Linked DNA regions of Homo sapiens: regions 2 and 3 are each linked to region 1. The links come from fine-mapping of genetic effects on gene expression. A gene starts in region 1. Each other region holds a variant in brackets. All regions are shown on one strand. Distances are from middle to middle.

Region 1 (2,739 bases):
AGTGAGGGTTTACCGCTGCCCCTGCCAGATCAATGCAAGGGATTCCTGGTGTTTGGTACAGAAGAATAACCATTGACCAGACCTCTTGTTGCCTATTAGAGACCAACAACTGTGCTGATCTGTCCCAAGAAGGACCGCATCTGGAAGAATGCCTGCAGTTGGGGTTCTTACCAGAATAAGTAAGTTTATCATAATGCTCTGTTGTTCTTCAAGGCCGTCTCTCTTCTGTTCTGGGCAAACTGAAGAGGTAATGGTGATGTGATGGGACTCACCCTGCGTCTTTCAAATCTTTGATAGTGGCATTAATCCCTGGGTGAGATAAGGTACTATTTTTGATTTATTTTCTTGGTAGTTAAGGAGAGCTCCAGGGCCTTCCATGTAGCTCTTCCTTTCAAAATAGCCCTTGCCCCATGGGTTAGGAAGCCAGTGTCAGGATTCCGCCCCTGTTGATACCAATAGCAACTCTGCATATAACCACAATTTCAGAGTACATAGCCCAGGCATGAGACAGACTTCACTCAAAACTTTTTTTTTTTAATCTGTGCCATGTACATGTATTATACAGTATATTCACAAAAAGAGGGGGGAAATTCCATTTTTAACAATTAAATACATAATTATTAAGTTTTAAAAATTCTCCTTTGTGTACCACTCCAAAATCCTCTCCTGCACATACTATTTTTTTGGAAACACCTAGTCGTCTCATCGTTATCACACCGGTTGTAACTATGTACCTACGTGTCTACCTTCCCCATCAGACTCGGGAACAAGGAGTCGGGTTTGAGTCCCACTGTCCCAAGCACAGAACGCTGGACTCCCAGTAGACCATATGTTGCAAATAAAGACCTTCGTCCCTTTCAACTCAGGCCGTCCACGAGCCCAGGAGTTCCAACAAAATGATGTACAGCAACCTTTTCCAGGCCTTTATGTTGCCTCAATATTTCTCACCTGCAAAATGGGAATGATCCGTACCTGCCTCGCTGTGCTGTCGGAAGGAGTCAGACGATGGGTGTGAAAGTATTGTAACACTATAGAAATTAATTCACTCATCCATTTAACAGGCAATTATTAAGTGCTAGGGTGGTGCAGCGCGATTACCACCGCATTACACGCGTTCCTCCAGCAGGTTGCATCCTTCCCGTCCCGCGTAGGGGGGGAAGGGCGTCTCCCCACCAAGTTTTTCTCCCAGCGAACTCCGGGTGGTGACCTTATTCAAAATGGCGCAGGCGGCCTCGGGGGCTAGTGCGGCGGCGCGGACTCCGCGTGCCCTCTGACCTGTTGGCAGCAGGCGGAGGGGGGGAACCGGGCGCCGCCATATTGGCTGTTGTCCTGTGAGGGGAGCGGTAGCGGCGGCGGCGGCGGCGGCGGCGGCGGCGGCGGCGGCGGCGTGTGGAGCGAGGGAGCGGCGCGAGCGGCGGCATGACGCGGAGGCGGAGCAGGCCGAGCGGCGGTGCGGGCAGGCGCGAGCGGGCTCGGGCCGCGGGGCCGCAGAAGCCCCAGGCGCCCGAGCCCCCGCCGCCGCCAAGCCTGGAGGCGGGAGCGGGTGCAGGCCCTCCGGAGGCGCCGGCGGAGCCCGACCACGACGGCCCCAGGGAGGATGACGAACCCAACCTGGTGCCCGGCCCGCAGGTAGGAGCGAGCGGGGAGACTTCGGCGGCTCGGGCGCTTTCACCTTCCCCGAGCGGGAGCGGGAGTGGGGCGGGGTTGGGGATGGGCCATCCTGCCGCGGCTGGGGTAGCAGCCTTCCCCCGGGTCCGGCGCCGAAGCTTTCTCCCCCGGGGCGGGAATGGAGGCTGGACCCCTCTCCCCAAAGCCGAGGCTCGGTCCGCGCTCCTGCGACTAGGCTGAAGCTGCTCCCCTCTCCCCGCCGCCTCCGGGCGTTCCGGCCGTACACCCACACTGGGACTGGGACTGGGACTGGGCTGTGATCCCGAGGCCGCAGCTCCGCTCTCGGCCCGCCACCTCCCCCGGGCCCACCTGCTCCCTCAGCCACAGGCCATCTCGGGGCTCTGGGACTGGACGACTGCAGCCTCTTCCCTCTGCCCCCGGGAACGGCTCCACTCCGTCCCCTGCAGCGCCTGCAGCCGCGGCCCCCTCAGCAGCTGTGTCTCCTGGCGCCTCCTCGCCATACCCAGCAGAGCAGTTGGAGCAGACAGCCAGGCTGCCCGGAGGAGTTTTTGGTGGGGTTTCTGCACTGAGGTGGAAACCCAGCAGAACCTGCCCTTCTTCCCTCCCCTGCTCCGCAAGGCAGCCCACCCCGACCTTGAGATCCCAGGTTTGGAGAATCCTGCTGAGAGCGAACAGTAGGAGGATTCCCCAAAGCTTCCAGCTTGCCACCTGGAAGAAGGTCACTTTCTTTTGAGCAAAGGAGATAACGGGAGGTACCCTGCCAAAGTTCACTGAGAGGCGGGGGTGACATGGGCCACGGTTGCTCTGGGAGGGTTGTGGCACTCGGGGCTGGGTGGCTCTCCCTAAGCTTGCTCTGACAAAAGAGTTTTGAGTTGGTCTTTTGGCTGAGCCTGCCCAGGAAGGCAGGCTCCTGCAGGAGTCTTGGAGGGTCGGATGCGGCGCCGGATGAGGATGAGGCGTGGCGGAAGATGCGTTTGGCTCTGCAGACACTGCATCGGGCAGCAGGGGACTCTGGGAGGCTGGTGCAGCCAGAAGGCATGGCTCTTGACAGCCTTCTAGTAGAATCTCTGGAATTGTGCATGTGAGTGGGGTTGCCGTTTGGGGTACCTT
Region 2 (2,638 bases), 170 kb before region 1:
CAGAATTGGAAGACTCCACCATTACAGGCAGCCACCAGCAGGTAATTGATCTCCTCTTATATGCTGGCTGTCTTTTATCCTCTTTCTGACTCATGAGCTCCTTTTTTAGCTCTAGTCCTTTTCCTCTTTCCCTCTCTTGTGATTGTTCTCCTGAAGGACCTGGTCTCATCCCACAGTTGAGGTCCTCGGGTCTTCAGTGTCGATAAAATCCCTCTCCAGCCCTCCTGCCCACTGCCTTGGCATTGCCCTGTTTACTGGCCCCCAGGTTGCAGCTTTGAATCTTGCTGAACAACCCTACAGGGTCCAGGGGAGGGGGCTGGGCTGGGGTCAGAAGAGCTGGACCCCACCCTGCTGGAGGGACCCCCCAGTGACATCTGGGTCTGCTCTGGACACCGCCTTCACAGATAGGTCTTTTCCTGCACTGGCGTCTCTGGACATGCACAATTGTTCTCTTCCTCACAGATGTCAGCAAGTCCTTCCTCTGCACCTGCAGAAGAAGCAACAGAAAAGACCAAAGTGGAAGAGGAAGTGTGAGTGTGCAGTGGGCAGAATGATGAGGGAAGTGGGCACGTGCCCATGTTCTTCTTGGCTACGCTCACTTTCTTGTTGTCCCATCAGGAAAACCAGAAAGCCCAAGAAGAAAACCAGGAAGCCCAGCAAGAAAAGCCGGTGGAATGTCCTGAAATGTTGGGACATTTTTAATATATTTTAGAGACCTCTGAAGGCAAGTGAAGGATGCCCTGAGAACATGCTCCAGGAAACAGACACCCACTCCATAGCAGCCCCTGAGCCTGCTGGGCTGAGCCCTCCACAGGCTGCTTAGTGAGGGAGACACTGAGGTGCTGGTCGCACCCCCATGTGCAGGACTCCAAGGGCTTTGCACTGTGTTGTCTGCAGTAACTCTTCAGCTCACCAACATCTCATTTGGGGGGACCTAGCTCTGTCTTCCCAGCCCCTTGAGGACAACAGGGAGCATCACTAGTTCATCCTGAGGAGACACTAGGGTTGACATGAATCCCCCTGGTTCAGGCCTCCTGGGAAAGGTGTGAGAGGGATGGAGGCACCCCCAGGCTCCTTGTCACACAAGCGAGCAGCCCACCCGACCCAGTATTGCAGGCCAGCAGGCCCTCAGTAGGTCCTGGTGTCAAGCAGGGGACACGGCAGGATCCAAGAAGCACTGAAATGTGTCCAGTCCCAGGAGTCCTTCAG[C/T]CTCTGGGGGGTCTGGGGGCCTCCAGTTCCAGGGGTCCTTCAGCCTCTGTGGGGGCCTGGGGTGGCCTCATGGCCCCCTTTTTCAAGATGAGGTTGGAGGCTTCTGTATGTAGAGGGCACTGGCTTGGGCCAAATGCCAACAAAACAAACCCTTGAAGACATTTCAGGGCCATGCTCACTTGGGAGGGTTTGAGGACATGATTTAGCGAGCCTCTGTTTTTTAAATATATTTTCCAATCTTGAAATAAGGTACACATATGAATGTGTGTGTGTGTGTGTGTACATATACACTGTTTTTCACTTTCAAATGTATGTCTTCTGTAACCCTTTTATGCTAGAATATACAAACATGAGAAATTTGTGTCTTACCAAAGCATAATTTTAAAAATTACAAAGCAAAGACAGGTCCGGTGGGGATGCTAGAAAGACCAGGTCTTATTAGGCAATAACAATGACATGCTCCAGGAAGCTATGCATGTTCAACGTGCAGCTCTTCTCCAGGAAGCTATGCATGTTCAACGTGCAGCTCTTCTCCAGGAAGCTATGCATGTTCAACGTGCAGCTCTTCTCCAGGAAGCTATGCATATTCAACGTGCAGCTCTTCCGTCTGGATGGCACAGAGGATCTGGGTGGCAAGGCAGGGTCACCACCCCCACCCTGTGTCATGAGACCTCCTGCTCCTCTTAGGGCCCAGGGGCATGGGACTCTGCCTGTTGATCCTGGTATGCTTGAAATTCCGTTTCTGTGTGTCTGTTTTACCCTCCGGGGAACCAGCCCCCTGAAGGTGCCCGTGTGAGCGCCCAGGTTCATTCTTCCTCCATGACACTCACACTCTCTGTGGACAGATAACTCCTCAGCAGAGAGCAGCACACAGGGCTCAGTGCCTTGACATCTGAGTAGACCTGATTGTGGGGAGCTCAGGGGCCCCAGGTCACCTTCCAGGGCCCAAGGAGGTCTCTGAGACCTGCACACCCATCCCAGGGAGCCCCTCCTCCCTCTACCTCTGTGCCTCTCTAGTGACCCTTGCACCTCTGTCTGTGTTGCAGATTCCTCGACCACCAGGAAGGGCCCCGACGTGGGGATGTCAACATGGCTCAGACTTGATGTGGATCGTGATCATTTCGGGAAATGTGTTACTCCAAAAACTTTTATAATCTTTGCTTAATTTGTTTTTAAATACTTTCCTGGCTGGGCGTGGTGGCTTATGCCTGTAATCCCAGCACTTTGGGAGGCCGAGGCGGGTGGATCACCTGAGGTCAGGAGTTCAAGACCAGCCTGGCCAACAAGGTGAAACCCCGTCTCTACTAAAAATACAAAAATTAGCTAGGCGTGGTGGCGCACTCTTGTAGTCCCAGCTATTTGGGAGGCTGAGGCAGGAGAATCACTTGAACTCAGGAGGCGGAGGTTGCGGTGAGCCGAGATCATGCCA
Region 3 (2,796 bases), 67 kb after region 1:
TCTCACTGTGTTGCCCACGTTGGCGTGCAGTGGCGCGATCTCGGCTCACTGCAACCTCTGCCTCCTGGGTTCAAGAGATTCTCCTGCCTCAGCCTCCTGAGTAGCTGGGATTACAGGCACCCGCCACCATGCCTGGCTAATTTTGTATTTTTAGTAGAGACGGGGTTTTACCATGTTGGCCAGGCTGGTCTCAAACTCCTCACCTCAGGTGATCTCAGGCCTGCCTTGGCCTCCCAAAGTGCTGGGACTACAGGTGTGAGCCACTGTGCCCAGCCGACTCTATCAGCTCTTGCCAGGTAGAACAGGCAGGCCAGCAGGACAGGGCAGCTCCAGGGTTTGCCCAGGGGCGGCTCAGCTTTTATGAGGCTCCAGTCGTCAGCCCTTCCTCCCGGGGTCCTCCCTGCTCTAAAGCTGCCTCTCCTGTCACCAGCAGTTCAGTGTGGCGGACTGGCTCTGTAAGCTTCACGGCTGCCACGGTCACTTCCCAAGCCTGTCTTCTATCCTATGTGGAAAATGGGGAGAATGAACTGTCCCTCCCAAGGCCTCCTGGTGGGTGGTCAGTCAACCTGAAGGGGGCCAAGACCCCCACCTCTCTGCGTGTGCTCCCTCTGACCGCTCTCGCCTCCCTGCAGGGGCCGCTACCTGGTGGCGCTGGGCCACGCGTACCACCCGGAGGAGTTTGTGTGTAGCCAGTGTGGGAAGGTCCTGGAAGAGGGTGGCTTCTTTGAGGAGAAGGGCGCCATCTTCTGCCCACCATGCTATGACGTGCGCTATGCACCCAGCTGTGCCAAGTGCAAGAAGAAGATTACAGGCGTGAGTAGGGCTGGCTGGCGGGGAGGTGGTCCCAAGCCTGTCAGTGGGAACGAGGGCTGCTGGGAAACCCACAGTCCAGGTCTCTCCCCGAGTGAGCCCTCCGGGTCCTTACCAGCGTAATAAATGGGCTGCTGTACTGGCCTCACCCTGCATTAGTCAGGATGCTCTTAACAAATGACCATGTTCCTGCTCAGAAACCGCCCAAGGCTGCAAAGAGCAGGAGGACCAAGCCAGGAGAAGCCCTGGGCCCTCCTGACTCCCACTTTGGGCTCTCCCTGCCCTGGTGAAATGACAGAACGGCCAACTTGACACGCTGAAGCTGCTCTGTCTCATGCGTCCTCCTCATTTCTGGATCCAGAGCCAGGGCTGCCAGGAGTAGCCAGAGAGCTCTGTGTGGTGATGTTCATATTAGTGAGGTTTACCTTGACCACGAGCAGTGGGAAACTCAAAATAATGGTGGCTTATTTCTCATCTAAAAACATCCCGGGGTGGGTGGTCTGGGACTGATCTGGTGGACCCAGGCTCCGCCTTGTTGCTTGACTGTTGGCAGCACCTGCTTACTTACCACTCATGGTGCAAGATGACACTTCAGCCTCCGCCAAAATGCTCACCTTCCAGCCAGCAGGAAGTCGGAAGGAGAAGAAAGGGGACAGAGCCCCATGGCGTCCATCCTTAGAGGATGCTGCCACCTGAACCTCTGCTTTCATCCTGTTGGTCAGAACCCAGTCACATGACCACACCCAGTGGCAACGGAGGCTGGGAAATATAGTCTTTATTTTGGGCACCCATGTGTCCAGCAAAACTGGGGGTTCCATCAGTCGGCAAGAATGGGAGAGTGGC[C/T]GATGCAGTGGCTGATGCTTGTATCCCAGCACTTTGGGAGGTCGAGGTGGGCAGATCACCTGAGGTCAGGAGTTCAAGACCAGCCTGGCCAATATGGTGAAACCCTGTCTCTACTAAAAATAAAAAAATTAGCTGGGTGTGCTGGCGCACCTGTAGTCCCAGCTACTTGGGAGGCTGAGGCAGGAGAATCGCTTGATCTTGAGAGGTGGAGGTTGCAGTGAGCCAAGATTGTGCCACTGCCTTCCAGCCTGGGAGACAGCAAAAAAAAAAAAAAAAAAAAAAAAAAAAAAAAAAAAGGGCCAGGCACGGTGGCTCACACCTGTAATCCCAGCACTTTGGGAGGCCGAGATGGGCGGATCACGAGGTCAGGAGATTGAGACCATCCTGGCTAACACGGTGAAACCCCATCTCTACTAAAAATACAAAAAAATTGGCCGGGCATGGTGGAGTAGTCCCAGCTACTCGGGAGGCTGAGGCAGGAGAATGGCGTGAACCTGGGAGGCAGAGCTTGCAGTGAGCCGAGATCGCGCCACTGCACTCCAGCCTGGGCGACAGAGCGAGACTCTTGTCTCAAAAAGAAAAAAAGAAAGAGAAATCTGCCTCCCAGCCTTGGGCTCCTGCCCTACCAGCCCACACCCCTGGTAGAGCCCCCTCTCCCACCAGCTCAAAGCCCAAGTTCCTTCACTGTGACCTTGTCTGCTCCTCTAAAACAGGCAACACCAGACAGTGAGAAGAGCCAGCCAGACATGGGCAGAAAACCTATTTCTGTGATCTACTGGCTGTGTGAGCAGGGGCTAGTTGCTCTCTCTGGGCCTCACTGAAGAGAAGGGTGGCACTATGCTAGGGCCGGCACGGTTGCAAGGTAGATGTAAGATGGGGTACAGGTGTTGTGGAGGGCAGAAATGCACCATCCGAAGGCTACATGTCCCCCACACTTATGTCTTGCTTGGCCCACACTGTTTCATTTTAAAATCAGTAGCAAACAATTTAAAAAATCAGAAGATTTGCCTGCATGATGCAGTGGCTCATGCCTGTAATCCCAGCACTTTGGGAGGCCAAGGTGGGAGGATTGCTTGAGCCCAGGAGTTCAAGACCAGCATGGGCACCATAGCAAGACCCCTGTTTCTACAAAAAAAAAAAAAT

The links. PIP is the estimated chance that this variant, and not a neighbour inherited with it, causes the effect.
Region 2: its variant is fine-mapped to the expression of FAM193B-DT in whole blood (INTERVAL, PIP 0.94).
Region 3: its variant is fine-mapped to the expression of FAM193B-DT in whole blood (INTERVAL, PIP 0.92).

What each region holds. Positions count from the first base shown.
Region 1 is chr5:177,553,139-177,555,877 of GRCh38, reverse strand. It overlaps FAM193B-DT (FAM193B divergent transcript), which reads right to left and starts at 1,250. Exons shown (of 3, transcript XR_941274.3): 1 at 949-1,250. It overlaps FAM193B (family with sequence similarity 193 member B), which reads left to right and starts at 1,315. Exons shown (of 9, transcript NM_001190946.3): 1 at 1,315-1,629. The coding sequence starts at 1,420. RefSeq lists enhancers at 1,057-1,206, 1,227-1,386, 1,113-1,616 and silencers at 1,497-1,706, 2,037-2,146.
Region 2 is chr5:177,722,187-177,724,824 of GRCh38, reverse strand. FAM153A (family with sequence similarity 153 member A) reads left to right here. Exons shown (of 23, transcript NM_001413826.1): 21 at 4-41; 22 at 463-530; 23 at 619-1,461. The coding sequence ends at 712. The region is part of intron 4 of LOC107986489 (a long non-coding RNA gene); the gene reads right to left. Among named protein-coding and RNA genes, the nearest start is that of FAM153A, 59 kb to the left of the region's middle. The variant C/T (reference allele first, on the strand shown) is at 1,210.
Region 3 is chr5:177,486,085-177,488,880 of GRCh38, reverse strand. It overlaps PDLIM7 (PDZ and LIM domain 7), which reads left to right. Exons shown (of 13, transcript NM_005451.5): 10 at 633-813. Among named protein-coding and RNA genes, the nearest start is that of PDLIM7, 10 kb to the left of the region's middle. The variant C/T (reference allele first, on the strand shown) is at 1,654.